Regions from separate parts of the Homo sapiens genome. Here region 1 is reported to be linked to region 2. Evidence: microRNA targets listed by miRTarBase, many of them from high-throughput screens and not tested one by one. Region 2 holds a microRNA gene; the other region holds the end of a gene's coding sequence.

Evidence for each region. Region 2 holds the annotated microRNA hsa-miR-4258 (CCCCGCCACCGCCUUGG, at 2,301-2,317, opposite strand). A microRNA usually pairs through its seed, bases 2 to 8, with sites in the 3' UTR of a target mRNA and lowers its output. Matches are read on the target gene's strand: a 7mer-m8 pairs with bases 2 to 8, a 7mer-A1 pairs with bases 2 to 7 and ends in A, and an 8mer does both.
Region 1: miRTarBase lists SLC60A2 as a target of hsa-miR-4258. The part of its 3' UTR that is shown has no 7-base or 8-base seed match.

The regions. Positions count from the first base shown.
Region 1 is chr6:111,266,704-111,269,703 of GRCh38, reverse strand. It overlaps SLC60A2 (solute carrier family 60 member 2), which reads right to left. Exons shown (of 4, transcript NM_153369.4): 4 at 1-3,000. The coding sequence ends at 2,585. Among named protein-coding and RNA genes, the nearest start is that of SLC60A2, 8.9 kb to the right of the region's middle.
Region 2 is chr1:154,974,876-154,978,019 of GRCh38, reverse strand. It overlaps MIR4258 (microRNA 4258), which reads right to left and starts at 2,327; the gene lies at 2,237-2,327. CKS1B (CDC28 protein kinase regulatory subunit 1B) reads right to left here. Exons shown (of 3, transcript NM_001826.3): 2 at 1-33. RefSeq lists enhancers at 2,934-2,993, 3,094-3,144.

The DNA of each region.
Region 1 (3,000 bases), not on the chromosome of region 2:
ATCATCATCCTTCTCTCCCTGAGCTGCATCTTCTACCCTGTAACAGTAAATGCTGAAGGTGGAATTCCTATTCTAGCAAGCCTCCTAGCTGCCAAGTAACTGCTACTGCCTAGATTCCAACAACCTGAGAAAAGGCAGTAAGTGAAGCAGAAGTAATTTCCAAGTTCTAACTGAGGGAAATTTACACTATAAAAAGAGCAAAAGGGCTGGGCACAGTGGCTCATGCCTGTAATCTCAACACTTTGGGAGGCTGAGGTGGGCAGATCACTTGAGATCAGGAGTTTGAGATCAGCCTAGGTAACATGATGAAACCCCCTCTCTACTAAAAACACAAAAATTAGCTGGGCATGGTGGCGCATGCCTGTAATCCCAGCTACTCAGGAGGCCGAGGCAGAAGAATCGCTTGAACCAGGGAGGCAGAGGTTGCAGTGAGCTGAGATCACGTCATTGCACTCCAGCCTGAGTGACAGAGTGAGACACCATCCCCCACCCCTAATAAATAAATAAAAATAAAAAGAGCAAGAAGGTTTTTACCATTAACTTCTCCACCGCCATCTCCAAAGCTGTTAGGTTATTACATGAACCAAGACTGTGGCAGGCATATAAGGTGAATGGGCGGGCAGTGGTCAAGAAAGACACTGTATTTTACTTGAGACAAAACAATGGCAAATTTATAGAAATTAAGTAAGAGAAAGCAAGCCTACTCCAATCAGGTAGAAAGGAGATGTTATTCAGCAAAAAATTGGAGGAAGTAAACAAAATTTCATCAATTCTTGTCATTTTTCAAAGGATCACCTGCACCAATTCTGCCACATATATATGAAGTACCCTTTCTGATCCTTGACTCCTAGGCTACCCAGTCACCTTCTAACTGGTTTCCCAGGTATTTCAGACTCAGGAAAGAGAAACCCTGGATCGGTGACACAAGTATTCCAATCACTGGAAAAGACTATGCCTCACTGTAAATTACACTTGCAGCGTGACCTACGGTAACTACGATATGATTACCACACAGACCTGGTGAAGAGCTAATCTCGAGCAAGGCTCAGACCCAGCCTCTGTTACTGAGGTAGGCAAAGGACCTCGAAAGACCCCATCTACAGCCCTACTACTAATCTAATAACACTGAAACAGTTCTTAAAATTAGAACATAGTGTCTCCAAATTCCACTTGAACATAGAATATTAGCATATAAAAATAACTTATTTTTAAAATGTCTGTAAAGATACTATCATAATTGAATGAATTACTGTATTTCACTGAATCTAAGCCACTGATTGTAAAACACATTATTTTATATATACATATGGGAAAAAACTGTCCATTAAACTTTGTCACAATGTTAAACGATCACTGATTGTAAGACACATTCTGATTTCAGATATGTTAACAGTATGGGGGTAAAAAGTGCAACTTAGAATCAATGAAATGCAGTACTAAAAAATATATTCTTCAGGTAATTATTCAAATAAGGTATTAAACATTAAGTACATTAAATTGACATGTAATCATTTATCATTAGCACATTCTTAAAGCTATTTATCATTTTGGTTTCACTTCTCATTTGAAATGAAGAACATGCTGTCACTTGTACTAATTTCTAGCAGACATTTTGCACAAACTTTAAAACTTACAGATTCCCAATTTGGAAATCATCTCATTTTCATTTCTAGAATCACAGATCAGGAGGCGAGATAAACAAGGCCTACGTTAAGTGACAGAGTGCAGGGCTAGAAGAAGTCAAGGCTTGAAGCCCGACCCCTTGGGCCCTGTTCTGTGTTCTCTTCATTGAAATTAGAAATCAAATGAGTCATTACATTCTTTGATCCAACCCTACAGATAAGGTAAAGCAATTAATAAAAATACCTCTCCATTTCTTTTTTGAGACGGAGTCTAGATGTCGCCCAGGCTGGAGTACGGTGTGGCATGATCTCGGCTCACTGCAAGCTCCACCTCCCGGGTTCACGCCATTCTCCTGCCTCAGCCTCCCAAGTAGCTGGGACTACAGGTGCCTGCCACCACGCCTGGCTAATTTTTTGTATTTTTAGTAGAGACAGGGTTTCACTGTGTTAGCCAGGATGGTCTCGATCTCCTGACCTCGTGATCTGCCCGTCTCGGCCTCCCAAAGTGCTGGGATTACAGGCTTTAGCCACTGCACCCGGCCCATTTCTCTTTTATGAAACTATTCTCCTCAACTTTCCTGGAAAAATATTGATACCTGATAATTTGTTCAACCAATCAATTCAACTCCTACATGGTCTCATTCTGAGAATACCCCCCTTCTCAAAAACAATGCCTTCTTTGGGTGCTCTGAGGGGTGGAGACCATAAAATATTTCCTAATCAGTCACATGTCAAATGATAGCGTTATAACAAGATCCTATTGTACGTGTATGAGACCATTTGGTTATTTATGGAAGACTCTGGGAATTACAGAACATTTCAAAAATTTTTAGCATTTGCTATAATATGGACCTAAAAATTTTAATCCCCAAAGCATGGTGAAATTCTGCTAATGCTCTGCTCTGAATGGCGTCCTTAGAAGTGGCAGTTATTCAAAGATGTCAGTGAGTAATCCATCTTCTCTAAACGTTAGTCCCTTTTGTCCTGGTTTCTGGCAAGTGCTTCACATGGGCACTGCCAGTATTAAAAGGAGAAGACTCAAACACCAGTGCATTTGATGGGTATTGATTATAGACTTCAGCTGTGGGCTCCGTCAGACTACTTCTAGATGTCTCTATTATAGAATGCCTCATTGTATCATTCGTTTCAATCATTTCAAAATCCATTTCATTCCATTTTTCTGCATCCTCCTCTTCATTCTCTTCCTCATATTCATTTAGCCCGGAGCTAGAGAGCAGAGCTTTCTGGTCCTCACTCTTTCTGTCTTCTTTTCGCTGGCGATCAAGAGGTGAAGTGGCTAATTTATATAGCACAGGAAATAAAATACCAGTAGCTATTGATGCTCCCAAAGAGGTATACAGAACTACAGGCAAATCAG
Region 2 (3,144 bases):
AGCTTGGCTATGTCCTTGGGCAGCATGACATGTCTGTAACAGAAACGGGGAAGTGGGGAATTTATGTTAGTACCAGATACAGTCTCTTAGACAAATGCCTGTTTACAAGGCCAAGAAAGGAAAGAAAAACTGGTTTTTGATGTCAGAGTTTATATAATTTTATTGTGGGGTAGCAGCAGCTAGAAATACAGGCTATGTTATATAAATTCCGAGAGTATATTAAAAATACAAATTAGTGAATAATTCCAGTGAATGAGCACTTAAGTTCAAGGCACATTTTCTCCGCCTTCATGGACCTTATAGTCTTCTAGTTGATTATCTACAACATAATGGGAGCCCCACGGAGCACACAGTGTTAATAATTAGAAGGAAGGAAGAGAAGTTATTTTGTGGCGAGGAAAGGCCTTTTATGAAGTACTGTGTGGACAAGTTATTACAAAGGATGAAATGAACTATCTTGTCCTTTAAAATCTAAGCCAGGCATGGTGGCACAAACCTACAGTCCCAGCTACTTGGGAGGCTGAGGCAGGAGGGTCATTTGAACCCAGGAGTTTGAAAAAGATACAGTATGAAGTTTGAAATCTGATTAAAATACAGAAGAAATAGGCCAGGGGCGGTGGCTCATGCCTGTAATCCCAGCACTTTGGGAGGCTGAGGTGGGTGGATCACTTGAGGTCAGGAGTTGGAGACCAGCCTGACCAACAACGTGAAACCCCGTCTCTACTAAAAATACAAAAATTAGCCGGGTGTGGTGGCATGCACCTGTAATCCCAGCTATTTGGGAGGTTGAGGCAGGAGAGAATCCCTTGAATCCAGGAGGCGGAGGTTGCAGTGAGCTGAGATCTGGGCGATAGAGTGAGATTCCGTCTCAAAAAAAGAGAAAAAAAATAAGAAAAAAGAAAGGGCTGCAATGCACAATGGTTGTGCCTGTGAATAGCCACTGCACTCCAGTCTGGGCAACAAAGCAAGACCTTGTCTCTTAAAAAAAAAATTAAATCTATCCTGAATCTTATTTTCCTAACTCTGGAGGGATGTACCTTGAGACTTTCTGGGTAAATTCCGTGCTTTTCTAACCAAGGATAAGTCTCCCTTCATAGCAAAAAAATTATTACCCTGATGTGAATCAAACTAATCCACATAGTCTTCGTCATGCTCAATGAAAATGTACTAAGTTCTCCCTCTGTGCTAGTAACAGTGATTCCCCACCATTCTCCTAAAAGAAAAAATTCTAGTCCAAATATAATGAAAATAGCTCACATTCTAACACCACCCTGGCACGAAATTTGGCTTCAATACATACACCAAAAAACCCCTCTTAAACCAAAGTGCCACTGCCAAGAGTTTCATCTTCCAGGGGATGAAATGGTGATTCCTTCCCAGCTCCACAAATCTCTTATAAGCACATACAGTTTTAAGTTAGTTTAGTTCAGATGTAGAGGAAAACAGCTGAGGAAAAGAAAGTTAATTAAAGGAGGGTCTGGAGCCGTCTTGGCATAAAGATGATTATGTATTTGTCAATGCACATCGAGTTCTCTGGAAGACCCAAAGCCCTGAACTAGGCTGGGTGAAGAGACACAAGAAAAGCAAGTTTTCATTTTATGTTCTCCAACTGAGGAGACAAGATACAAACCAGGAAGTGGTCTTAATTATTACAATTAATACAGATTAGCATAATGCCAACATTTGTGGAATCCTGTGTCTTCCCTTATTCCCAATCTAGATTATGCACTTAAAATTTATCAAGCCCGAATGCCACATCCAGTGCCAGGATTCCATCATCACCATCCTTGGCAGATGGCTATCCAGTGTCTTCTAAACAATTTCAGTCAAGAGGTGCTTCCTCCCACATACCTTTTTCTTAGAGTCTCATCTCAGGCTCTGCCCTCTAGGAAGCTTTCCCCAACATTCCCTCTTCCGTTTTTCCTCTCAGTATTTTAAGTTTCATGTTCAAGGGTACATGTGCAGGTTTGTTATATAGGTAAAATCCTGACTCGGGGGTTCGGTGTACAGGTTATTTCATCACCCAGGTACTAAGCATAGTACCCGACAGTTTTTTTTTTTCCTGAACCTCTACCTCCTCCCACCCTCCTCCCTCAAGCAGGCCCCAATGTCTGTTGTTCCCCTCTTTCTGTCCCTGTGTTTTTATCTCCGACATATAAATGAAAACACGCGTAGTTTACTACTGGTTTCGTTTTCAATGGTGGTGAAAGAGACATCACGCTGAATTGGCCCTTAGGACACTCCCCCGCCCCCAAACCAAGCCCAGGGAAGAAGACCGACCGAAAGTAAGAGGTCAGCCTCCAAGGCGGTGGCGGGGCGGGGGGCGTTCTCGAAGCGTGGGATGGGGGAGCGTCCTGGAGTTAGCAAAAGTAGGGGACTGACTTTCTAGCCCCACCTCAACCCCCGCTCACAGCTAGGAAGCCGCAGCCTTCGGGTCGCCAGTTCCCTCTCCTTAGCAAGTCTTGTGTGCTCCCATCACACCCTGTAATGGCTCCTTGCATAGCGTGTGTCACCTTTCTGGTGTCTGTCGGTACCACCCACAGATTTTTAAATTTGTGAACAGCAGAGACCATGTGTTATCCTTGCACTTTAGCAGAACACCTGAAACCTGTTAAGTATTCCGTAACTGTTCCCTTTGATATTTAAAGGGCATCTATTAGACCCATATTAAGTATTTTCTCAATGCTCCTAGCCAGTTTTATTCCATTGCAGTCCCAAGCGATCCCCTTCCTTACACAAGCCAGACAACCACGCCCCTTGTCTTTTTCACGAGTTAATAAGCAATATTCAACTCTCTCAGCGCTACTCTCCTGTTAGGGACGCCAGGAAACTTCCAGCTCCGCTTTTGCTACGTTCTCCCACTGGATTCGACAAGATTACTGTGAAACAGTCTCTACAAGGCAAGTTAAGTTTGCCCGATAAAGTTCAGAGAATGATCCAGAAAGCCTCATGGGTGAGGGTGGTCAGTACCCTAACCACGCCCACCCCTCTCTCCTCTCTACTGAGAGGCGACTCCAAATTCGCAACCACTTTGTTTTACGAGCGCCTCCCACCTCCGCGCATGCGCCTTACGCCTTCCACAATATCACACCATTGCCCGTTCGCACCTCGTACGCATGCGCCAATTCTATCGCCTCAGTTCCT